4 separate regions of the Homo sapiens genome follow, and all the other regions are linked to region 1. Evidence: fine-mapped expression QTL. A gene starts in region 1. Each other region holds a variant in brackets. All regions are shown on one strand. Distances are between the middles of the regions.

What was found. PIP is the estimated chance that this variant, and not a neighbour inherited with it, causes the effect.
Region 2: its variant is fine-mapped to the expression of KDM2B in whole blood (TOPMed, PIP above 0.99).
Region 3: its variant is fine-mapped to the expression of KDM2B in whole blood (TOPMed, PIP above 0.99).
Region 4: its variant is fine-mapped to the expression of KDM2B in whole blood (TOPMed, PIP above 0.99).

Annotation. Positions count from the first base shown.
Region 1 is chr12:121,578,495-121,586,553 of GRCh38, reverse strand. It overlaps KDM2B (lysine demethylase 2B), which reads left to right and starts at 5,531. Exons shown (of 23, transcript NM_032590.5): 1 at 5,531-5,768; 2 at 7,608-7,752. The coding sequence starts at 5,643. It overlaps KDM2B-DT (KDM2B divergent transcript), which reads right to left and starts at 6,043. Exons shown (of 4, transcript NR_183427.1): 1 at 5,291-6,043. RefSeq lists enhancers at 2,501-3,434, 3,435-4,370, 5,306-6,241 and silencers at 5,811-5,860, 5,941-6,250, 7,410-7,489.
Region 2 is chr12:121,382,161-121,390,270 of GRCh38, reverse strand. All of the region lies in intron 1 of LOC124903037 (a long non-coding RNA gene), which reads right to left. Among named protein-coding and RNA genes, the nearest start is that of RNF34, 14 kb to the left of the region's middle. The variant A/G (reference allele first, on the strand shown) is at 4,360.
Region 3 is chr12:121,453,044-121,458,043 of GRCh38, reverse strand. KDM2B (lysine demethylase 2B) reads left to right here. Exons shown (of 23, transcript NM_032590.5): 13 at 4,700-4,924. Among named protein-coding and RNA genes, the nearest start is that of MIR7107, 11 kb to the right of the region's middle. RefSeq lists an enhancer at 4,306-5,000. The variant T/C (reference allele first, on the strand shown) is at 3,061.
Region 4 is chr12:121,553,084-121,558,083 of GRCh38, reverse strand. All of the region lies in intron 4 of KDM2B (lysine demethylase 2B), which reads left to right. Among named protein-coding and RNA genes, the nearest start is that of KDM2B-DT, 25 kb to the left of the region's middle. The variant T/C (reference allele first, on the strand shown) is at 2,303.

The sequences.
Region 1 (8,059 bases):
CAAAAAAAAAAAGAAAAAAAAGAAAAAGAAAAAATTGTGGAATATCTCATAAATACAATAGAATCTGAAAAATATTTAACTATACTTTAAGGAACAGTCTTAGATGCCCAGCAGGTGGATTAAGAAACAGAAAGTCACTAGTATCTCTGTTCACATTCCTTTCCTGAATGGTCTTTTGCAGCATTTTGTGTTAATCATTCCTTGCTTTTATTCCTGTTTTGTGACTTATGTATCTATATCTAAAGAATATTTAGCCTGTAATCCCCCACTTTGGGAGGCTGAGGGGTGGATCACTTGAGCTCAGGAGTTTGAGAACAGCCTGAGTAACATGGCAAAACAGAGTCCCTACAAAAAGTACCAAAATTAGCTGGGCCTGGTCTTGCATGCCTACAAGTCCCAGCTACTCGGGAGTCTGAGGTGGGAGCATTGCCTGAGCGCGGGAGGTGGAGGCTACAGTGAGCTGTGATCACACCACTGCACACCAGAGCCTGGGTGACAGAGCAAGACCCTGTCTCAAAAAAAAAAAAAAAATTTAGTTTTGGTTTAGGTTTGCCTGATTTTGAATCTTATAGACTTAAAAAAGGAATAAAATGGAATTATTTTTGAGTAGGTAATACATCTGTGCGGTACAAAATTCAAGAGGTACTACAGCATCTAAAATGAGATTAAGTCAATAAGGTTTAAAATCAGGCACCGTTCATGTACATATGTGGTAAAAATATCACTTTACCAAAAAATAGGCTTTCTTCTCTTTTCCCAGTTCTTTTTCTCACTTTTTGATCTTTCCAAAGGAAATTCTGCACATACTAAAGAATGTATGGGTCGGGCACGGTGGCTCATGCCTGTAGTCCCAGCAGTCTGGGAGGCCGAGATGGGCGGATCACCTGAGGTCAGAAGTTTGAGACCTGCCTGGCCAGTATGGTGAAACCCTGTCTCTACTAAAAACACAAAAATCAGCCGGGCATGGTGGTATGCGCCTGTAGTCCCAGCTACTTGGGAGGCTGAGGCAGGAGAATTGCTTGAACCCGGGAGGCGGAGGTTTCAGTGAGCCGAGATTGTGCCATTGTACTCCAGCCTGGGTGTTATAGCAAGACTCTGTCTCACAAAAAAAAAAAAAAAAAAAAAAGCATGTAGATACAGACATAACCCTTTTGGTTTCCTTACATGGTCCGCACAACTTAGTATTATTAGTATTCTGCATGTTGTTTAGTTTCGTTTTGGTTTGGAGACGGAGTCTCGGGATGTCACCCAGGCTGGAGTGCAGTGAATGATCTTGGCTCACTGCAACCTCTGCCTCCTGGGTTCAAGCGGTTCTTGTGCCTCAGCCTCCTGAGTAGCTGGGACTACAGGCGCACGCCACCACACCCAGCTAATTTTTGTATTTTTAGTAGAGATAGGGTTTTATCATGTTGCCCAAGCTGGTCTCGAACTCCTGAGCACAGGTGATCTGTCCGCCTTGGCCTCCCAAATTGCTGGGATTATAGGCATGAGCCACTGCGCCTGGCTTCACTCCAGATTTTTTATAATATTACTATGACTTTGTGCAAAGCCCCTCACATTTGCAGTACCTTTGAATCCTTGCCAAATCTCCATAAGGGGCTGTAATTCCCCACCTTTATGGCTGAGGCTCAAAGACAGGTTAACTTGCTTGGCCAAATTTTATAGCTAGGAAATAATGATAGGATTCGAACTCAGAGCTTACAGGAATCCAGAGCCCACAGGGTTGCCCACTATGCTAAGCCTCCCTTCAGGGCTGTCCCACAGAAGATGATAGAGTTATTCAAGATATTCTTTTTTTTTTTTTGAGACAGAATCCCCCTCTGTCACCCAGGCTTGAGTGCAGTGGTGCAATCAGCTCATTGCAAACTCTGCCTCCTGGGTTCAAGCAATTCTCCTGCCTCAGCCTCCCGAGTTGCTGGGATTACAGGTGTGCACCACCACGCTTGTCCAATTTTTGTATTTTTAATAGAGACGGGGGTTTCATCCTGTTGGCCAGGCTGGTCTTGAACTCCTGACCTCAGGTGATCCACCTGCCTCAGCATCCCAAAATGCTGGGATTACAGGTGTGACCCACAGCGCCCAGCCAATGATAGGGATATTCTGTATCTGCACCATTCAGTGCTGTCACTTCTAGCCCCTTCAAATGTAGGTACTGGGTTAAGGAGCTGAATTTTACATTTTATTTTAATTAAATTTAAGTAGCTGTATGTAGCTAATGTATCCCATCAAACAGCACAGCCTTAGAGTGCTTTCCAGAATTTGTTTTAACTCACCTACCAGGCTATATATACCTAAGAGGCTGATTTGATACAGGGTCCCCCTAATCAACCTTCCACAAACATTTGTGGAATGAATGAAGGGTCCATGGGGAAAGGGGGCCAAGGATATCAGCAAAGGTTTCCTAGAAGAGGCCATCTGATTACAGTGTGAATGCTTGCAGTGTTAGCCCTTAAACCACTCTCTCTGAGTGCCTGCCAAGGGCATGGCACTGCGTAGACTCCTGGGGATACCAGTTGGATATGAGGTTGTCCCACCTGCTCAGATCTTACAAATAAACTTCTCAAGGACAAATAGTTGGTGATAGGGTAGGAATCCTGAGACGTGGATGATCACTTTCAGATATATATTCTACTGACAGACTCAAGCACAAAGCTGCAATCCCTTATAGCTCTGTTTGCAATAGAAAAAGATTGAAAACCATCTAAAAGTTAGGGAACTAATTAAATCATTCTTGCACCATTTATCTGCCCAATGAAATGCTATGAAATCATTAGAAAGAATAAGGAAACTATAGCTGATGTGCTATAGCATTCCACATATGCTGATGTGGAATGATTAGATATCCTTAAATTAAAACAAAACAGGGCCAGGTGTGGTGGCTTACGGCTGTAATCTCAGCACTTTGGGAGGCCGAGGTGGGAGGAACACTTGAGCCTAGGAGTTGGAGACCAGCCTGGGCAACACGGCAAAACCCTGTCTCTACCAAAAATACAAAAATTAGCTGGGCATGGTGGTGCACTCCTGTAGTCTCAGCTACTTGGAAGGCTAAGGTGGAGCATTGCTGAGTCCAGGAGGTGGAGGTTGCAGTGAGCTGAGATTGTGTCACTGCACTCCAGCCTGGGCAACAGAGCAAGACCCTCTCTCAAAAAAAAGAAAAGAAAAATCAGGAGTTATGATAATCATATATGAATATGAGAACAACTTCAATTTCTTATCAAGATTCTGGTTTCTGAGAGCTACATCCAGTGTCCACCCTTTCCTTGGGAAGCTGCAGGTCCATCGTCCTACCCAGCCTCGAGTATGCCCCAATCTGCATGCCCCACGCTGCATCTTCTTTTCTCTAGCCTCTCTGTCTTTGGGCACAGAGTTGCTCAATCAACCTTTGATGAATGAAGAATGAATGGGGGTAACTCAGGCAGGATTTGACTGGGCCCTTTGTAAGATCGAGCAGGAGGGTCCAGGAAATAATTATTATTATGTTTCCAATACAACCGGCCCGGTGTTTTCCTGCAAGAAAAAGTACATCTCTGGGGTAAGCACCTTCACCTTCTCTCTTCCCTTACCTACTCTCCACTTCTCTGGGACAATTAGTCAACACTGGGAGCTCCAGGGTCTTGGCCCTTCCCCCTTTGGTCCAAAATAACCTCCTCCCCCACTTTGAGCAAATGCTTGGAATTCTTTCAACTGGAGGACAAAGCCTTTCATCTGCCAATTACTGATAAAGAGAAAATGCAAATATCGAGGGGGAAGGTGATTCATCAAGGGCCCAACATTTATTGAGTGGCCACTTAGGACCCGGCAGCAGGGCAGGCATTCTGGGGGAGGCCAAGGGGAACAAACCCCCGGCTGGCCCATTCTTTTCTCGTGTTTGCGGTTTCCTCGAGGTTTGTAAAGGGGGGGGATTAAATGAGGTGACTACCCAGCCCCTTCCCACTCTGACAGGCCAGGAACTCCTCGTGGAGGTGATAGATGGACTTAACTGTTTTTATACTAAGGTGGCTGCCATTGGACCTTTTTCTGATGCCAGCTTTTGGGGCCACTATGAGGCCACTTGGAGAGAAAGAAGGGCCTCAGGGAGAAAAAAGAATTAATTAGATGAAGCATTCTATTATATATTTTTTGCTTTATTTCACTTAATTCACTTTGCGTCACTCTCCAGCCCATGCAGCCTCCTTTGAACATGTTTATTTCATTATGGGGCAGTAGTGAGGCTGGTAAGTTACTAAAAAAAAAAAAAAAAAAAAAAAAAGCACGTGATGGCCAAGCCAGGCTCCAGTGTGAGCCCTGGCAGCGGCACATACGCGCTATGTGATCCTGGGTGAGTGGCTTTGCTTTTCTTAGTCCTAATTTCCTCCTTTGCAAAATGGGAACGAACAAGACGATTTCCCTTAAAGGGTTCTTGTGAGAAAGACAGGAACAAATAAAATGGTCCATGGTTCTGGACGGACTGAAGGCAGAACCGGCAGCACTCACACGAAGGGCTACTGATTGCACGCAGCAGCCAACGTGGGCGATTTCAGTTTGGAAACAAATTTTGATGTTTCCCAGCCTCATCCCTGCTTAAAAGATTTTTACAGCTAGTGAACATGAATGAAAACAAACTTCAAAGAGTAGCCTTTGAGGATGGGTGGGAAAGACTACAGTCAGATAGGACAGGAAACTTCTAAGGTGAGTGAGGGGGAAGCTGTCTCTTAGGACGGCCAATACGATGCTGATAGTGACATCGTATCTCCTGGTGGGGAAGCCACGTCCTCCCCACAGGTCTGTCTGATAGCCTGGGGACCATATGGGAGCACAGCAATCATTCAGATTCATAATTTCTCTGAGCTTCAGTTTCCCTATCTGCAAAATGACCTGCTCCAAGTATCCCACAGGGTTATGGCAGAAATAAAATGTCAGGCTCAAAGCCTGCTATCTACAATGTCCCTTTATCGTCTCCCTCTTGCCATGTCATTTTATCAGCATCTTTACCCGCAAGATCAGGCCTAGCAGGGCGCCACAGCTGGGGCTGGAGGAATGTTTAGGGCTAGCTTTTCTCAAGCCAAGTCGACCTGACTGTTGCTCATGATGGGAGGACAAGACAACCCAGGACCAGTGCTGGGGTAGTCAAAAACACTAGTAAGTGGACAGGGACCTAATGACACCCATGTATGTACGGAGGGTGCCGATACCTCCGCTAAGAAGCCCTGTAGGGGCTTCATCAAGGGCACTAGAGTTCCCCCCACCTATCCCAGAGCACCATGCACCTTTCCACCGACTTGTCTTCTATAAACTACCAACAAGGGCTTACCCTTCGCTCCTGTGCGGGCTGCGTTAGGAGGCGCCAGATCCAATTCTCTGCGTCTTTCGCTCCTGAGCATCTATCTGCTCCCCTTGCCGAGCGCAAGAACCTTTAAAAAATGTCCAACTTCTGTTTCAGGGCTGGTCGCCTAGTAAAGGAGTCCACAGAGGCGGGCAGAATGAATGAATGAAAGGCAACGTCTTCCGGTCAGCTGCGGACTGCAAAGGCTCTGGTCTGGCTGTATTTCCTGTACGTGTGTGTGTCCACATCTTTGAGTGCCGGGAGTTTAAAAGTTAGGCAGTCCTTATAGGTATGGAAGCCGAGCTAATTTCCTTCTGAGCCCCCCAAATGCCTCCTCCACATGGCGGGTCCGCAAATGGGGGGATCTGCAGAGGATCACCCCCCACGAAAAAGACATGCAGCAGAAAAGCAAAAAAAGAAAACAGTTATATATACAAAATGCTTTGAATTTGAGTCGGCCACACAGGTAATGTTGGGGGAGGGGTGGATGAAAGAAGAGGAAGAGGGGTAGCCCTGGGCAATGAGGGCAGGAACGGAGGTGGGGGGTCGTTTTTGGGGGTGCCAGGCCCCGGGGGCTTTCACGCCAGCATGCTCGGCTTGCATTTCCGCGCCTCCCGCTGAGGCCAGCCGTGCAAATCTGCACCTCCCTCCCCGCCCCCTCCTCCTTCCCTCCCTCCCTGCCCCGCCATCTCCGGGATGCGCCCGCCGCCTGCAACTCGGCCCTCCAAAAGTCAGCTCTGCACACAACTCCCGGGCGGCGGCGGCGCCTGCGTGCAGAGGCGCACTCGTGACCCAACAACAAAACAGCGATGCCACGGCGCTAACGGCGCCCGGTGCCTCCCGGGCTCCCTCCCCGCCCCATACCTCCTCGGGCCGCCGCCCCCACCCCCCCAAGCCCGGGCCGAGAGCCCCCCCAAATAGCCCGGCCGCGGGCTCCGAGCGCGATCGGCAACAATGTTTACGTTCCGGGGATTATGACGTCGACGCCTCCCCCCCCCCACAACTGCTGAAAATGGTTTCCTAGGACTTTGCAAACGGATCTGCCTAAGTGTTGGTGCAAAACTTTGTAGATCTCGGCTCTGGCTTGCTTTATTTATTTATTTTTTGGTTTGTTTTCTTTGGTCTTCCCTCCTTCCCCCCTCGGCCAAAATGCAGGGGGCAGGAGTGTTGACAATTAATTGGTGAACTCTCCTAAAAAAATGGAGGCAGAGAAAGACTCTGGAAGAAGATTGGTGTGTAGCTTTTTTTTTTTTTTTTTTTTTCCAAATCTGTATCTGGCATATGATAGATCTTTTTTTTTTTTTTTTTGGTTGTTTCTCGCTGCCTTTTCTTTCCTTTTCTGTATTTTGCAAGAGGACCGGGAAAAAAATATAATAAATTGCATGCAAAAGGAAGCAAGCTGCTTACTCCTCCAGCCCCTTGTGAGGCTTAGAGTCTCAGACACTTAAGTGGGGAGGTGGTATCGGGGAAAGGCGTGGAGGGGGGCTGAGCGGGCTCGGGGTTCGCCCGGAATCTGGGGGGCTGAGGGGCCGGGCGCTGGGCGGTGGAGGGAGGAGGCAGGGGGATGCGGGGAGTGGTGGGGGAGTCTCCTTAGGAAGTGAGTGTGCGCGCGCGCTTGTGGGGAGATGAGGCAGCTGCTGGTGCGTTTTGGGGTCTCCGATCCGAGCTTTGTGGCGGGCCGTCTGCCTCTCCCCCTTCCAAGCCCCGATTCTCCTCCCCCCACCTCCTCTTCTTGCACTGGCGGGCGGGCGGCGGGGGCGGCTGGGGTCTCAGCCCTTCCATTTCAGCTTTCCAGCTTCCCCGGTAGCTCGGGGGCGGCTCCAGCTTTAGAAATGCCGCCGGCCCCCGGTTCCGGCTTCCCGGCTCTGCCGCCGCGGCCGCTGGGGCTGCTGTTACCGCCGAGCCGGGCGCCGCAGCGGCTCCTCCTGGGGCCTACATTTGCCCCGCCAGCCCGTGTCCGGAGCCCCCTTCGCGGGTTACATAACCAGGCTCCCGGCCGAGTGGGCGAAGCCCAGCACATTTCGGGGGCGGGGGGCAGGGGAGGGTCCCCAGATGTCCCTTCAGTGCTTCCGAAGACACCGGAGGGGAGTACCCCGCGTAGAGCGCAGCTGGACCCTCGGGGTGCGGGCCCCTCTCCTTGTCCTGCTTTTCAGCATCTTTGGCAATTGCGCAAAGTTGCTTGGGTTGCAATGGTGGGGTGCAGGGGGCGCTCGGCTGCTGCACCTGTTAGTGCTGGGCCCAGGTTGAGAGGCGACCTCCAGCCCCCACAATAATGTCCCGGGCTCTCTGGTTTGGGTCCTCGCAGCGCCCGATTGACCGCCAGCGATACGACGAGAACGAGGACTTGTCGGACGTGGAGGAGATCGTCAGCGTCCGCGGCTTCAGCCTGGAGGAGAAGCTTCGCAGCCAGCTGTACCAGGGGGACTTCGTGCACGCCATGGAGGGCAAAGGTGAGGCGCCCCCACCCCGGGCCGCCCTCTGCGCTGCGGGCCGAGCGCACGTGGGGAGGGAGCTGCCGGTGGCTGGGTTCGTATTTCGCGCCCGCGTCCCCCATTCCAGGGGATCCGGTGACGAAACGAGGCCGAGCACTGGGGGGGTGGGGTGGGGTGGTGAGGGAGGAGGGCAGGCAGTAAGGGGGGCCGGGCATGGGCCTAGGCCCGGCCCGCGCCCACCACCAGCCCCAGGGTGGGCAGAGCCAGGGGGCCGGCGGACAGAGGGACCTGGAGATGGACAGGCGGACCGAGGGAGGGCGGGAGC
Region 2 (8,110 bases), 200 kb after region 1:
AGGCTTGGTGGCAGGCACCTGTAATACCAGCAACTCTGGAGGCTGAGGCAGAATTGCTTGAACCTGGGAGGTGGAGGTTGCAGTGAGCAGAGGTCCTGCCACTGCACTTCAGCCTAGGCAACAGAGTGACACCTCGTCTCAAAAAAAAAAAAAAAAGAGTCCATCATTTGCTATAAAGTTTTTGAGCTAGAAGGGCCCTTCAAGGTCACTTTATGTACTTTCTCAATTTACATTGACAAAGTGCCTCCCAGAAGAGTTAAGTGTGCTCAGGATCACACATCTAGCTACAGGCAAAGATGGGACCAGAAGCCAAGTCTGACCTCTTAAACGCATGCTTTTTGCTGGCAACTTTGGAAAAACTCCAACCATTCTTTGCTCTAAATTCAAAGACAACCCAGGCTTCAAAGACGGAAACTATCTGATGACTCCTTGATAAGGATGTTGGGAATTTACCTGGACAAATCTTATACTCCAAACTACAGTAAATTCTAAACCAGAAAAGGGTTTAAACATATTTTTTAGAAAACTAAGAGAAAGCATATCATGTCTATTTCAGATATAACATGAAATAGATTTCAGATTTCTTTTCTTCTTAAAAAATTTTTTGGCCAGGCTCAGCGGCTCATGCTATAACCCCAACACTTCGGGAGGCTGAGGTGGGCAGATCACCTGAGGTTGGGAGTTCGAGACCAGCCTGACCAACATGGAGAAACCCCGTCTCTACTAAAAATACAAAGTTAGCCGGGTGTGGTGGTGCATGCCTGTAATCCCAGCTACTCAGGAGGCTGAGGCAGGAGAATCACTTGAACCTGGGAGGCAGAGATTGTGGTGAGCCGTGATCACACCGCTGCACTTCAGCCTGGGCAACAAGAGCAAAACTCCGTCTCAATAAATAAATAAATAAATAAATAAATAAATAAATTTTTTGAGTCAGGATCTTACTCTGTCACCCAGGCTGGCGTGCAGTGGCACCATGATGGCTCACTGCAGCCTTGACCTCCTGGGCTTAAGCAATCCTCCTGCCTAAGCCTCCTGAGTAGCTGGTATTACAGATGTGCACCATCACATCCAGCTAATTTATTATTATTTTTTGTAGAGACGGGGTCTCCCTATGTTTCCCAGGATGGTCTTAAACTTCTGGGCTCAAGCACTCCTCCTGTCTCAGCCTCCTAATGTGTTGTGATTACAGGCGTGAGCCACCGTGCTGGGCCACCTACTCTACTCTCTCGGTTTTCCTTCTGTCTCTCTGAGCAATTTCTTCTCCATCTCCTCTACCCACCCTTCAAGTTTTGGTGTTGATACAAGTATTGCAGGCCTTTCCACTTCTCACTCGACAGATTCTTCTGGATGACCTCACCCTGTACTCCAGATAGGTAACCATTCTCAGGAATTCCCTGTCTAGGTCTGTATATGGGTCTCCTGAGCCTCTGCCAATCCGTCTCTTCCCTGCGTTTCAGATTTGTCAGCTCAGTACCCACTTCCTTCCAACCCATGCTCCTCTTCCTGGGTTCCCTACCATGCTCTATGGCACCATGCTAGAGAACTGCAAGTCATCCTTGACTTTGCCTTTGAGCAGCTCTAGCCCTGTGCACCACTCACATCCATCTACTTCTTCATCCCCTTGGCCCATGGCTCTTACTGTTTCTCTTGCTTCATTGCAGCTGCAGGAGCTTGAGCTCCAATCTGCACTACCCCACCACCCCCACCACCTGCTTAGTCATCCCCACTTCTGGTTTGCTCTCTATCCTGAGGACAAAAGCCTCTTTACACGAAAAGTCTGACTTTGTCTTTTCCTGTTTAAATTCCTTTGGGATGGTGGGGCAAGGCGGCTCATGCCTGTAATCCCAGTACTTTGGGAGGCTGAGGTGGGCAGATCAGTTGAGGCCAGGAGTTCAAGACTAGCGTGGCCAACATGGTGAAACCCTGTCTCTACTTAAAATACAAAAATTAGCCAGGCATGGTGACGCGCACATGTAATCCCAGCTACTTGGGAGGCTGAGGCAGGAGAATCACTTGAACCCGGGAGGCAGAGGGTGCAGTGAGCCAAGATCTCACTCATAAATGTGTGTGTGTGTGTATATATATACACACACACACACATTTATTCCTTTAGGGTTTCCCAATGGCCTCATGAAAAAGTCCAAATTTATTAAAATAGTGTTACAGGGTCCTTTATCGTCCATTCCCTGCTCACCCCTCCAGGCCTACTTCCCACCACCCTCACCTCACAACCTCCACTGTAACCATACTGAACTGCTTGCAGTGCCCCAGTGGGTCATACTCTCCTACCTCTGGGCCTTTGCACAGGCAAGCTCTTTTGAGATGTAAATTCCCCATCTCTTCCAAGTTCAGAGGAAGCGCTTCATTGGCTTCCTGGACTGGCTATCTTTAATCAACCTTTAGCTACCAGCTCTGTAGACTTTCTCAAGGAGCTGTACTCTTAACTCCTAAAGTTGTCAGGCACACTGATACACATGTACATCATACACGATACTCACTGTCATACCGTATTATAATCGCTATTTTGCTACCTTGGTTTTTCTTTTCTGCTTTTTTTTTTAAATTGAAGTGCAATTAAGGTATAATAAAATGCACGAAACTTAAGTGTTCAGTTCAGTGAGTTTTGCTTTTGTTTTGAGACAGAGTCTCCCTCTGTCACCCAGGCTGGAGTTCAGTGGCGCAATCTCGACTCACTGCAACCTCCGCCTCCCAAGTTCAAGTGATTCTCCTGCCTCAGCCTCCCAAGTAGCCGGGATTACAAGCGTGTGCCACCATGCCTGGCTAATTTTTGTATTTTTAATAGAGATGGGGTTTCACCATCTTGGCCAGGCTGGTTTCGAACTCCTGACCTCATGTGATCTTCCTGCCTGTGTTGGGATTACAGGCGTGAGCCACCGCACCTGGCCACTTTGGTGAGTTTTGATGACTGAATACATTCATGTACTCACCCAGAACAAAATAAGAACATTTCTGTCATCCCAGAAATGTGTGTGTTTGTGTGTGTCTGTGTCTGTTCCTCTCTAGTCAACATCTCCTCCCATCCACAAATGCAGCCCACTGTGTAACTGGTTACTTGTCTGGATAGACTTTACACTCCATGAGGGCAGTTACCATGTCTACCTTCTTTTTGTTGCCCAAGCTGGAGTTCAGTGGCACAAACATGGCTCACCACAGCCTTAACCTCCTAGGCTCAAGCAATCCTCCTGCCTTAGCCTCCTGAGTAGCGGGGACCATAGGCACATGCCACCATACCCAGACAATTATTGAAAAAAGTTTTGTGAGACAGGGTCTCCCTATGGTGCCTAAGTTGATCTCAAACCCCTGGGCTCAAGTGTTCCTCCCACCTCAGCCTCCCAAAGTGCTGGGATTACAGGTGTGAGCCACCACACCTGGCCTTCATCTTCTTTATACATTTCAAAACCTAGCACATAATAGACAACTTAATAAATATGAATGAATGCATAGAATATTGATAGAATGGATAGAAAACTGCTGGGTATGGTGGCTCACGCCTGTAATCCCAGCACTTTGGGAGGCCGAGGTGGGCAGATCACCTGAGGTTGGGAGTTCGAGACCAGCCTGACCAACATGGAGAAACCCCGTCTCTACTATAAATACAAAATCAGCCGGGCGTGGTGGCAGATGCCTGTAATCCCAGCTACTCAGGAGGCTGAGGCAGGAGAATCGCTTGAGCCCGGGTGATGGAGGTTGCAATGAGCCAAGATCGTGCCATTGCACTTCAGCCTGGGCAACAAGAGTGAAACTCTGTCTCAAAAAAAGAAAAAAAAAAAAAGAAAACTGCAGTGATTACATTAATTTATTGGGATATTTTAGAGATTAACATCACTGACTGTAATAAAAATAGTTAAGAGGCAAAATATAGAAGTCTCCTGTCTCCTTGAGCCTTTGTTCACCCCTGTGCTGGTAATGAGACCTTTCTGTTGAAGTTACAATTCAAGGATTAGGCATTCCATCCCCAATAACAGTTGGCAAAAGTCAAAATAAATATTTTTGGATTCCACAAAATTTGAATTTCACACTGAAGTGATTCAATTTTAAAACATATTTACTTCAAGTCAAGTGTCCAAGTACCATATAAGTAATATCATCTCAAACAGCTACAGAAATGTGAAAATACATTTCAGACATTCACCAACAGACGTCACTGATACGTTGCAGTTATCGTATTTAGCATAAGCTTCAGGTATTAAAAGTAGGCCAGGTGCGGTGGTTCACGCCTGTAATCCCAGCATTTTGGGAGGCCAAGGCGGGCAGATCACTTCAGGTGTGGAGTTTGAGACCAGCCTGTTCAACATGGTGAAACCCTGTCTCTACTAAAAATACAAAAATTAGCCGGGC[A/G]TGGTGGCGCATACCTGTAATCCCAACTACTTGGGAGGCTGAGGCACAAGAATTGCTTGAACCTGGGGAGGCAGAGGTTGCAGTGAGCCGAGATCACACCACTGCACTCCAGCCTGGATGACAGAGTGGGATTCTGTCTCAAAAAAAAAAAAATGTAGATTAAGTCAACTCTCCCCACCCTCTTGAGAAGTGCTGACAAGGTCGAGAAGACGATAAATGGGACTAAGCCTTTTTTCAAAGATCATAATCAACACATTTATTAAAACCTTGATTGTGTGTAGTGCTATGCCATGCTAAATGATTCACACAGAGAATTAGCTAAACCTTGCCTCTCTCCTCTAACAGTTTACAATCCAAGGCAGACAGGCTGACGCTCTTGCACATTTATAGCCAAATTAGACAGACGCAATGAAATACGAACATTATCAACTGATAAATGAATAAAGTAGACATTCAGGGAAGGAGACATTCAGATGGTTGTGATAAGAAGAGTTGCCTTGAAAATTCCAATTTCAGACTATGCAGGATAAAAAGATTAGTACTCTTATCCATCACCACCTTCATTTACAATCATGTAAGAATATACATGTGCCTAGGCTGGGCACGGGGGGCTCATGCCTGTTATCCCAGCACTTTGGGAGGCCGAGGTGGGTGGATCACAAGGTCAGGAGTTAGAGACCAGCCTGACCAACATGGTGAAACCCCATTTCTAGTAAAAATACAAAAATTAGCCAGGCATGGTGGCGTGCGCCTGTAATCCCAGCTACTCAGGAGGCTGAGGCAAGAGAATTGCTTGAACCCGGGAGACAGAGGTTGCGAAGAGCCGAGATTGCACCATTTGCACTGCAGCCTGGGCAACAGAGTGAGACCCCATCTCAAAAAAAAAAAAAAAAAAGAGATACATGTGCCTAATAATTGTTCCCAAAAATGTCAACCTTTGTCCATCCTCATTCTGAAACCCTTACACCTTCTAGAGTCACAATACTTGTAGCAGTACTTTTTTTTTTTCTTTTTGAGACAGGCTCTTGCTCCATTGCCCAAGCTAGAGTGCAGTGGCAAGATCATGGCTTACTGCAGCATTGACCTTCCTGGCTCAAGTGATCTTCCCCCCTCAGCCTCCTGAATAGCTGGGACTACAGACACCATGCCTGGCCCGTTTTTTTTTTTTTTTTTTTTGTAGAGACAAGATCTCACTATGTTACCCAGACTGGTCTCAGACTCCTGGCCTCAAGCAATCCTCCTGCCTCGCCCTCCCAAAGTGGTGGGATTACAAGCATGACCCACCATTCCTGGCTGCCTGTAGTAATTTTGTAAGACTATAATTTCAAATGGTATTCTTGAACACACATCTGACTATGTCTTTGCTAAAAGGTTAATAAAATAGCCTTTTCTTTTCAGCACTGCTGCCAAGATTTCCAAAACAGCTCTTTTCATCTTGTATTGAATTTTTTTTTGTTTCAACTGATTCAATTCTATTTAATTCTTATCTCCCCTACTTCAACTTTTTTTTTTTTTTTTTTTTGAGACAGAGTTTCGCTCTTGTTGTCCAGGCTGGAGTGCAATGACAAGATCTCAGCTCACTGCAACCTCCACCTCCCAGGTTCAAGCAATTCTCCTGCCTCAGCCTCCTGAGTAGCTGGGACTACAGGTGCACACCACCACACTCGGCTAATTTTCATGGTTTTTTTAGTAGAGACGGGGTTTCTCCATGTTGGCCTGGCTGGTCTCGAACTCTTGACCTCAGGTGATCCACCTGCCTTGGCCTCCCGAAGTGCTGGGATTACAGGCCTGAGCCACACCACCTGCTGAAGCTAATTCTTTAGAATGGCCCCTTTAATTTGAATGGCTAATTATTACACCATTAGACGCTTGAAAAAAATACTTTTGGCCAGGCGCGGTGGCTCAGCAGTACACATATGCAGGTGTGTATATTGATATGACACTCATAGAAGAGTTCTAGGAATTTGCTCGATATGTTTATAGCTGGGTGTGAACTGATAGTCCCGAAGCTGAAAGTGGAAACTCCAGTACCTAGATTCAGATCCATGTTTCAAGTCGCTCTGAATATCACTTTTTTTTTTGTTTGAGACAGGGTCTTGCTCTGTTGCCTAGGCTGGAGTGCAGTGGCACAGTCACGGCTCACTACAGCCTCCACCCCTGGGCTCAAGCGATCCTCCTGCCTCAGCCTCCTGATTAGCTGGAACCACCAGTGGGCGCCACCACACCTGGCTAATTTTTGTAATTTTTGTCGAGATGGAGTTTTGCCCTCTTGCCCAAAATGGTCTGGAACTCCTGGGCTGAAGCAATTCTCCCACCTCAGCCTCCCAAAATGCTGAGATTACAGGCCTAAGCTACCACACCTGCCTGAAAATTATCTTTAAAATGACCTCAGATGCCTGGCTGAGTAATGTGTAGGTACTAGAATAGGCACAGGGGTGCCATAAAAAATGTTAGTAGATGAATGACATAATCCAAGTTTCTTGGTTTTCGTTGTTTTTCCTGTAAATGAATGACCCCTAATAGAAATTTTCAGTTCATGACTGTTAATGGGGATGGGGGAGAAATGTCCAGATCTGTTGTAATCCTTAGCTTTCTAAAATTCTTGCCCAGCCTCTAAAGCACTGCTCTCCAAATCTTATTATGTCTAAGAATAGAAATATCCTGGAGCGCTGACCTGATAGAAGTATTTTTCAGTTGTTTGATAGTGTTCACCTCGACTCTTATTAGAAGAGAGGGTAGCAAAGATTGGGATGCCTTTCCAAAAATATCGAAGCCTTTATCCAATATGGAATCACTGTCCCACAGCAGTGAGAATTACCTTAAGCAAAGTTATCTTGCTTAGAAAGTTGACTATAAAGACGGCTATGAGGACCGAAATCTTAATTTTCTTTTTTTTTTCTGATTACAAAAGGAAAATGCATTATTGTAGAAATATAGAAAAGTGTACAAAAGAATATTAAAATTACGATTCCACTACTTAAAGATAAGCAGTACCAGCATTTTGATGTACATCTGACAATTACAACAGCCAGACTTAACATTTACTGAGTCTTCTAATTTTTTTTTTTTTTGAGAAAGAGTCTTGCTCTGTCGCCCAGGCTGGAGTGCAGTGGCGGCATCTCAGTTCACTGCAAGCTCCACCTCCCCGGTTCACGCCATTCTCCTGCCTCAGTCTCCCCAGCAGCTGGGACTACAGGCGCACGCCTCCATGCCCAGCTAATTTTTTGTATTTTCAGTAGAGACGGGGTTTCACCGTGTTAGCCAGGATGGTCTCCATCTTCTGACCTCGTGATCCGCCCACCTTGGCCTCCCAAAGTGCTGGGATTACAGGCGTGAGCCACCGTGCCCATCCGAGTCTTCCAATTTTTAAAAAGTATGCTGGCCAGAGGCCGGGCATGGCACACAGCTGTAGTCCCAGCTACTCGGGAGGCTGAGGCAGGAGGATTGTTTGAGCCTAGGAGGCAGAGGTTGCAGTGAGCCGAGATTGTGCCACTGCACTCCAGCCTGGGCAACAGAGCTCGACTCCTTCTCAAAAAAAAGAAAAAAAAAAAAGCTAAGCACTATGCGTTAGAACACAGATGTTCTCATTATTTTAAAGACATGGGGGTCTTGCTATGTTGTCCAGGCTACATTCAAATTTTTCCAGAGAATGGGTGTATCAATTTGCATTTCTATTGGTTTTGTATAGAAACAGCCCAATTCTCTGCACTCTGATCAGCGCTTATTAATTTACTCAAATCTTGGCCAATAC
Region 3 (5,000 bases), 130 kb after region 1:
ACCGATCTTAACAATATTAAATCTTCCAATTCATGAACACGGATGTCTTTCCTTTAATTTAGGTTAATCTAAGTAATTTTAATCCCTATAATTTAGAGCTGAGGGATTGAGGAGGTTCTGTCCATGCATTTTCTGGTGGATAATATCTGGTAGACCAGAGGAACTCAAATATTGGTGGGATGAATGAATAAACCTTGATAGCATTCACTTAAAGGACAATGCTCTTGAGTTGCTGATGGAGAAGAGGTGTAGGAATACCAAGATATTTGTGTGTGTGTGTGTGTGTGTGTGTGTGTGTGTGTGTATGTTTCCGATCTTCCTAACCTTTCATAGTGGGCTGAGGATATGGTTCCTGGGCTGATAAAATCAACAAGTCGCCTTGGTGTTGGGGATGCTGGTTCGTAAATGAATGTCTGGGGATGCCGTCACTTCCTTTGCTGGGACAGGGGTAGGACAGAGTGGAAGTTAGAATTGGTGTTTGAGGCCAGGCACAGTGACTCATGCCTGTAACCCCAGCACTTCAGGAGGCTGAGGCGGGCAAATCACTTGAGGCCGGGAGTTTGAGACCAGCCTGGCCAACATGACGAAATGCTATCTCTACTAAAAATATAAAACTTAGCTGGGCTTGGTGGCGCACACCTGTAATTCCAGCTATTCGGGAGGCTGAAGCACAAGAATTGCTTGAACCCGGGAGCCAGAGGTTATAGTGAGCCAAGATGACGCCACTGCACTCCGGCCTGGGTGACACAGTGAGACTCTATCTCAAAAAAAAAGAAAAGAAAAGAAAAGAAAAGAATTGGCGTTTGAAACTTTGGGTAGCACCCAAAAGATATCAGGACAGAGAAAGCTGTGTGCTGAAAGGAGAGAGCTCTGGCAGACTCACCTTCCTTTTTATTCCATTTGTCCCTTTTTGTGTCACTGTTTTCTGTATTCTGCCATCACGTTTCCTGGTTGGGTCTTCAGAGTCCCAGTTGGACTTTTTAATGGAGGCCTCCGAGGTCTGTCTTACCTGTGGGTTTTTCAGTGGGCTTCATTAGGATCCTGCGTTGCTCTGTTGTTGAACCAACTCTTGATGAGCCAGGCGGGGGCCACTGCCGGCAGCAGAAACCTTCCTGGCCTGATTTGGCAGCGGCTAGACAGGGCCTCATCAAGGTCTCGAGAGACTGCAGCTTCTCACACCTCTTCTTTCAGGATGTTGTCTGGTATGTGCTCTGTGATTTTCCCAGATGTCTCAACTGCTGTTGAGGTCCAGGCAGGTTGTTTTCCATAGGCTGGATGAGAAGGTGCTTTGGTTGGTGCAGGCAAATGGGCTTGTTTTGCAGTGACATAGGAGCTTCGAGACTCAGACTGGATTGGCCCAACGTTTTTACTTGCCCAGACACTGTCCTCGGGGCAGGGAGGCCAGAGGCACTCAGTGGCTATTGATACCTGGCGTTCCTTTGAACTCCTGGAATTTTTTCAGTTTTTTACCAGAGAAGCTCGTCTTTAGACTCTCCAGCTCCGGGGATCTGGTTTTGTCCTGGGAGGTGGCCCACACGCTGGCCACTTCACACCTGACTGGAGGCCTTAGACGCCGCCCATAGCATTGCCTGTGTTCCAGGTATTTGAAGAGTGAGCTGGTAACAGGGCACCTGTCGTTTGGAGGGGTAGAATCAGAAAGTGCTATTGTAGGCTGTGATGACAGGGAGAAACGTTTTTGGATTTCCGCTTCTCTGGAAGTAGCCGTGCTTCTCTGCACCTCTTGTTGGCACCCTTCGCACTGAGGCATCGTGGCACTAGCTGGGAAGCCCTTCCAGGAGCATGTGGCCATCCCAGTGGGTCTGTGGGCCCCTCGCTGCACTTCGCACATGCATTTGCTGTGGTTTAGTGTGTTCAGTGCACAGCACCGGAGTCCACGCATCATGCTGGTTCCATGACCACAGGCAAATTACTGGCTTCAGGAAGGCATCCTCTGCAGTGCTGTTATTGGGAAAGTTAGGTAATATCATCAGTAAAGTGATGGCCACGGTGCCCGCAGATGGGGGTGCTCAGGGAATCCCTGCCCTCACGCGGCATGGCCGTCATCTCGGTCCTTAGCGCTGCCTGCCTGGCCTTGGCTGCTCTGTTGGCTGCTCAGCTTCAGGTTCACAGTCTGCTCTGTGCCATTCTCAAATCCAGGAAGCTCTGAAAACTGATCTCGTTTTACTTCTCACGTGGGCAGCCAGACGTGACTCGGATGGATGTGTGTAGTGTGTGGTGGACTTGGCCCCCGAAAGGTGCTAATCGCAGTGGGACTATGCGAGTATGTTGGGGGCATCCGGCCCTCATTGTAAGGATGGATTTCTTCCTTTTTTGTTTTTTGAGACAGGGTCTTGCTCTGTCTCCTAGGCTGGAGTACAGTGGATGATCACAGCTCACTGCCACCTCAAATTCCTGGGCTCAAGCAATCCTCCCACCTCAGCCTCCTGAGTAGCTGGGTCTGCAGGTGCACACCACTACACCTGGCTAATTTTAAAAATTTTTTGTAGGTCTCACTATGTTGCCCAGGCTGATGTTGAACTCCTGACCTCAAGTGATCCTCCCACCTCAGACCCCAGCATGCTGGGCTTATAGGCGTGAGCCACCGTTCCTGGCGCCCTTTGCTGCTTTGGATGGTCCCTTTACCCAGGTGACTGGTGGTGGCCAGCTTGCCTGTGGGTGGCCCTGCAGTCCAGGGCTTGCCCTCCCTGTGACAAGGCCTTCTGCTGGGCTGCCCCAGAGCAGAGGGCAGGCATGACTGAGGGTCCTGAGCAGCTGGGGAAGACCAGTGGGAGATGAGGGTGGTAGAGCCGGGGAGCACCTCCCTTTCCTCTTTGGGGTTCACAGCAGGTTGAGCAGGGTAGAGGCCCAGAGCTCCAGTGCTTCCTGAGGGGCCACTCGGGCTGATGGGGGCCTGGAAGCTCCTTGAATGCTGTGGGAAGGTGAATCGGAGGGAGGGGTCTGCTTAGGTGTTGACAGCAAAGTGGGTGGCACGTGAGGCTGCGGGCTTTCTACAGGGACCACTGCACTGGAGAAGAAAGTTGATGGTGGCGAGGCTGTATT[T/C]GAGGAGAAAGGGGGGCTGTTTTTCTTCCTATGCAGTTGGAAGTTTCTAGGAAGCCCCTAGGGTGCAGGGAGTTGTGTGTGTTGTGAGAGGGGGTCCCTGTGATGTGGACCTTCTTCTCCATTGGAGTGTATGAATAGTAACAGCTCTTCTGGGTCTGTGTGCTCCCAAAAGTATGGGGTTTTGTTTGGGGATTCAAGTATGACAAGTCACTGAAATGAAGAGGGTGGGACTCTGGACCAAAGGGTGTTCAGTTAGCTGAAAAGGGGCTTTAGGCGTTAGATGCCGTTAGGTCAGCTGGTTTCCAGGGTGACCACGTGTCTCCCTGACAGGGACTTCACCATTTCTCAGCCACCCCAGGCTCTCCAGAAAGATGCCACAGACAAGAAAAGCTCTCCCATCCTGGTCCCTCCCACTACAGGTCCCAGGTGGACAGGGGACCTCTGTGGACAGTGTCCTCAGCAGCTAGCTTAGGGCTCCCCCGTAGATCATGGGTCTGCAGGAGGCTCTGGGGCTGGGAACCAGAGGGCAGGGGCTGTGGCTGTCCCATTTTCCTGGCTTAGCTACTAGCCCAGCTCTCTGTCCACCTACTGTCTCTCTCTTCTGTGAGTCCCAGGGAAGGGAGCATTTGGAGCCCATCTAGGGAAGATCTGAGTAGTCAGGGACCTAAAGGTTACTATCCCATCCTCCCTGGGGTGGCTCTGGTTTGTTGAGTGCATTCTGCATGCCAGGCTGGCTCGTAGAGAGGTGCAGTGGTGCACAAGACACCTGTGGTGAGTGCCCTCCTGTGCCCCGTCTCAAAGGGAAGGAACAGATGATTACCATCATGAGCGCTCTAACAGGATCTCCCAGAGGGGCCCTGAACCCAGTGCAGGTGGGCAGTAGGGGCTTCCAGAAGAAAGCAGCCTGTAAACTGACCAGACGGAATGAGTGGGCATCAGCCAAGTGGCTTGGGCGGGGGTGGGGTTGGCCTTCCGGGCTGGGGGAACAGAGACCGATTGTGTGGCCCCTTGCGGTCTTTCTTGGGGAGCAGACGGAGGTGGGAAAGGTGGGCAGGGTCCGAGCCTGTGGGTGCAGCCATGGAAGGTCTCGAGCTGTGTGCTGCGGCAAGAAGCACGCGCCCTCTGTCGTCCTCTCCTAGGGCTGCCATAACGGGTGGCTTAAAACAACCGGCCTTTCTTCTCTCCCGGTTCTGGAGGCCAGGAGTCTGAAGTCAAGGTGTGGGCTGGCGGGCCGGGCTGGCTCTGCGGGCTCTAGGGGAGGGTCCTTCCCCGCGCCTCCAGCTCCTGGTATGTGCTGCCATCCTTGGCACTTCTTGGCTTGTAGACAGGGCTCCAGTCTGTGGAAGGCCTGTGTCTTCACACACGTTCTCTACGTGCGTGTCTGTCTCTGTGTCCAAAAGTTCCCCTTTCGTAAGGACACCAGTCATACTGGATTAGCGTTCACCTGAATTACCTCGTTTAACCTGACGGTCTCTGCAAAGCCCCCATCTCCAAATAAAGATCACACTCTGAGGAATGGGGTTTAGAGCCCCCATCGTGTCTTTCTGGGGGTACACAGTTTGCTCCCTAACACCCTTTCCGGGGGTCTGGCCGTGCCTGCAGTCTCCCCATCTGACCAGTCGTGTCTGTTCCCCTGCAGAACCGGGCTGTGGGTCGGCCCAAGGGGAAGCTGGGCCCGGCCTCCGCGGTGAAGTTGGCCGCCAACCGGACAACGGCAGGAGCTCGGCGGCGCCGGACGCGATGCCGCAAGTGCGAGGCCTGCCTGCGGACCGAGTGCGGAGAGTGCCACTTCTGCAAGGACATGAAGAAGTTCGGGGGCCCCGGGCGCATGAAGCAGAGCTGCATCATGCGGCAGTGCATCGCGGTGAGTGCGGCCCCCGCCCAGCCCTGCGCTCGATTCAGGCCCCTGCGTGCCGGCCCGCGTGTCTGACCGCTGCTCG
Region 4 (5,000 bases), 27 kb after region 1:
ACAAGAAACAAGTAACCAAGAAATACGGTATTTAGGATGAAGTGGTATGAGGTCATCAGTGGGTGACACCTTTCTGTTTGTGAAGCTACTAGGTAAACTGCGATTTCGTTATAGAAGGTGTTGGCCCCGTGATCCGCTTATACCAGGCTCTGGGAGGGAGGCAAGGGGAGGGACCAGCCCTCCCCTGTGTAAATATGTCACATTTATGGAGCCATGTAGGTATACCCAGTCATTCTCTCACTAACCCTTCGATTAGTTTCCTAGGCTGTCATAACAAAGTACCACAAAGTGAGTGGCTTAAAACCACAGAAGTTTATTCTCTCACACTTCTGCAGGCTAGAAGTCCAAAATTAAGGGTGTCTGTAGGGCTACATTTCCCCCTGAAGTCTCTAGGGGCAGGTCCTTCCTTGCCTTCTCTGGCTTCTGGTGGTGGCTGGCAGTGCTTAGTGCGCCTTGGCTTGTAGCTGCGTCACTCTGATCTCTGCCTCCGTCTTCACGTGGCTGTCTTCCTTCTGTGTGTCTGTGTCCACATTTCCTTTGTCATGGCTGGGCACGGTGGCTCACGCCTGTAATCCCAGCACTTTGGGAGGCTGAGGTGGGTGGATCACCTGAGGTCAGGAGTTCAAGACCAGCCTGGGCAAAATGGTGAAACCCCGTCTCTACTAAAAATACAAAAAAATTAGCCGGAAGTGGTGGTAGGCGCCTGTAATCCCAGCTAATCGGGAGGTTGAGGCAGGAGAATCGCTTGAACCCAGGAGGCAGAGGTTGCAATGAGCTGAGATTGTACCACTGAACTCCATCCTGGGGAACAGAGTGAGACTCTGTCTCAAAAAAAAAAAAAAAAAAAAAAAATTCTCTTGTCTTATTAGGCCTACCCTAATCCCATATGATCTCATTCTAGCTTGATCACGTCAGCAAAGACCCTGTATCACAGATATTAGGGACTGAACATATATTTTGGGGGAGTGCAGTTCAACTCACAGTACCCCTTGAGGTACGTGGGTAGCCAAAACCGTTAGCAAATTACAGGGAACTGGGTAGGCTGAGGAGGGGAGGGTGCTGATTTCTGGTTAGTGCCTTCCCTGCGTCTACTGTTCGATCTGGGTCATAATCTTAGCTAATCCTACAACCTTTTTTTCTTTTTAAAATTACATTTTTATTGATTTACTGGCTTAGTTCACTTTGTGTTGCTATAAAGGAATGCCTGAGGTTGGATTTTTTTTTTTTTTTTAAGGACAGAGTCTCACTCTGTCGCCCAGGTTGGAGTGCAGTGGCACCATCTCAGCTCACTGCAACCTCCGCTTCCTGGATTCAAGTGATTCTCCTGCCTCAGCCTCCTGAGTAGCTGGGGTTACAGGTGCGCATAACCAGGCCTGGCTCAATTTTTGTATTTTTAGTAGAGACAGGGTTTCACCATGTTGTCCAGGTTAGTCTCAAACTCTTGACCTCAAGTGATCCACTTGCCTCGGCCTCCCAAAGTGCTGGGATTACAGGCTTGAGCCATGGTGCCCAGCTGGGTTGGATTATTTATAAAGAAAGGTTTATTTGATTCAGCTCTGCAGGCTGTACAGGAAGCATGGAGCCAGCATCTGCTTCTGGTGAGGACTTCAGGAAGCTTCCAGTCATGATGGAAGGGGAGGGTGAGCTGGTGTGTCACATAGCCACAGAGGGAGCAAGAGAGAGAGGAGGGAGGTGCCAAATGCTTCTAAATAATCCAGCCTGTAGCCCCAGCTATTTGGGAGGCTGAGGTAGGAGGATCGCTTGAGCCCAGGAGTTTGAGGCTACAGTGAGCCATGTTCAAGCCACTGCACTCCAGCCTAATGAGCAGAGTGAGGCTTTGTCTCAAAAAACAAAAAACAGGCCGAGTGCAGTGGCTCACCCCTGTAATCCCAGCATTTTGGGAGGCTGAGGAGGGCAGATCACAATGTCAGGAGTTCAAGACCAGCCTGGCCAACATGGTGAAACCCCATCTCTACTAAAATACAAAAAATTAGCCAGGCGTGGTGGTGCGTTCTTGTAGTCCCAGCTACTCGGGAGGCTGAGGCAGGAGGATCTCTTGAACTTGGGAGGCAGAGGTTGCAGTGAGCCGAGATCGTGCCACTGTACTCCAGTGTAGGTGAGAGAGTGAGACTCCGTCTCAAAAAAAAAACAAAAAACAAAAAAAACAAAACAAAAACCCAATTCAGTCTCATGGGAACTAATAGAGTGGGAATTCACTCTTTATGCAAGGAGGGTACCAAGGCATTCGTGAAGGATCCACCCTCACGTCCCAAACACCACACACCAATTCCTACCTCTAACA[T/C]TGGAGATATTTGAGAGATATTCATGTTTCAACATGAGATTTGAGATTTGGGGGGGAAAAATATCCAAACTATATCACTTACTTATTTATATTCTTATAAAAAATTTTGGCCAGGTGTGGTGGCTCACGCCTATAATCTCAGACATTTTGGGAGGCCTAGGTGGGCAGATGACTTGAGCCCAGGAGTTTGACACCAGCCTGGGCAATATGGCGAAACCCCGTCCCTACAAAAAATACAAATATTAGCCGGGTATGGTGGCCCACGCCTGTAATCCCAGCTACTTTGGTGGTTTAGGCACAAGAATTACTTGAACCAGGGAGGTGGAGGTTGCAGTGTGCTGAGATCGTGCCACTGCACTCTAGCCTGGGAGACAGAGCGAGACTCTGTCTCAAAAGAAAAAAATAAAATTACCCCAGACTAGTTATTCTTTCTTTTTTGATACTTTGACACTTGCAAAATAAATAACATTTTCAGGGTCTTAAGGTATAATTTTGTAAATTACTATATCCTCATAACTAAATGATATGATTAAACATTATTTTAAATTGGTATCCATTTTTTATAAAATAGGATTGCTATCTACTGTTTTTTAAAATTTTTTATTTTTTAAGATAGAGTCTCACTCTGTCACCTAGGCTGGAGTGCAGTGGCACAGCCATTGCTCACTGTAGCCTCTGCCTTCCAGGCTCAAGTGATCCTCCCAAGTAGCTGGGAATACTGGTGTCTGCCAACATGCACAGATAATTTTTAAATTTTTTGTAGAGATGGGGTCTTGACATGTTATCCAGGCTGGTCTTGAACTCCTGGGCTTAAGTGATCCTCCTGCTTCAGCTTCCCAAAGTGTTGGGGTTACAGGTGTGAGTCACCACACTCAGCCTACTCTTGCATTCATCAAATATTTGAGTGCTGCATGAATCCCAGATGCAGATGTTCTTTTGTTTTTTCTGGTCCACATTTGGACTAAGACTGAAAATCATAACTTGTGGATTAATACCTGTGTGCATGTGAGAGAGGTATATATACCTGGGATTAAATGAGAGTATAAAAGTGTTAATTTAAAGTATGTTACAGGCCGGGTGCGGTGGCTCACGCCTGTAATCCCAGCACTTTGGGAGGCTGAGGCAGGTGGATCACCTGAGGTCAGGAGTTCTAGACCAGCCTGGACAACATGGTAAAACCCCGTCTCTACTGAAAATACAAAAATTAGCTGGGCGTGGTGGCAGGCGCCTGTAATCCCAGCTACTCGGGGGGCTGAGGCAGGAGAATCGCTTGAACCTGGGAGGCAGAGGTTGCAGTGAGCCGAGATCGCGCCATCGCCATCGCACTCCAGCCTGGGGGACAAAAGAGAGACTTTGTCTCAAAAAAAAAAAAAAGTATGTTACAAAGGGCAAGTATCATGATATATACAAGGTATACATTTATTTGGAAACACTCCCAGATTACTTGCCATCTCTGAGACTCTCCATTTTAAAAAAGTAAAAAGTTTCATTGAAATATAAGTCACAGACCATACAATTCATTTCACCCCACTTTTTTTTTTTTTGAGACAGGATCTGGCTCTGTTGCCCAAGCTGGAGTGCAGTGGCACGATCATGGCTCACTGGAGCCTCAACCTCCTGACGCTCAAGCAGTCCTCCCACTTCAGCCTTCAGAGTAGCTGGGACCACCGGTGTGGGTCACCATGCTTGGCCAATTTGTGTGTGTGTGTGTGTGTGTGTGTGTGTGTGTGTGTGTGTGTGTGTGTGTGGAGCTGGGGTGTCACTATATTACCCAGGCTGATCTCAAACTTCTAGGGCCCAGCGCTCCTTCCAGCTCTGTCTCCCAAACTGTTGGGATTACAGGTGTGAGCCACCAGCCACCAAGGCCGGCCACAATTCACTTGTTTTCAGTATATTCACAGAGCTGTGCAACCATTATGAAAGTCCATTTTAGAACTTTTTCATCATTCCCCAGAAGAACCCCACACCCATTTGCATCTTGAATATGTTGTAGGGTCCTAAGCAGTCTGTTCACTGGGACTGGCCAGCAACGATTTAACTGGCTGTGATGCTGGGCAAGTCCCTAAACTTCCCAGCTCCTCACCTTCTCCACCTCTAGTTACAGATGAAACTGACCGACTCGGTAACGCTACCTACCTGTAGGTGCTCCAAGTGAGTGTGAAGTGCATGAACTCAGTTATGTCTCAGGACAGCTCCTGGGCTGGCTATTTGTTCCCCATGTTATAGATGAAGAAGAAACTGATTCCCAGAGAAGCCAAGAGCCCGAGGCACAGGCTGGAGGCTCCGCTGGGAACCGAACCCTCTAAATTTTAACAGTGTGTGGGTAGGGGTAGCTGAGCTTGGCCTTCAGTGCTGACTTGCAGGACTCTGGGTTCGTGATTTTAGTGCTCTTTATCCTATTTGCTACCTGCCCAGCAGACTCCTTTGCACAGGGAGCTTTGCAGACATGACCTTGAGCAAGATTAGGGAGGAGAAGTGGGTGGAGGTGGGAGGCTGGCCAGAGAGCGAGAGTGGGGAGGGTACCGGGGTTCTTTCTTTCTTTTTTTTTTTTGAGACAGAGTCTTGCTCTGTCGCCCAGGCTGTAGTGCAGTGGCGCGATCTCGGCTCGCTGCAACCCCGCCTCCCGGGTTCACGCCATTCTCCTGACTCAGCCTCCCAAGTAGCTGGGACTACAGGCGCCCGCCACCACACCCGGCGG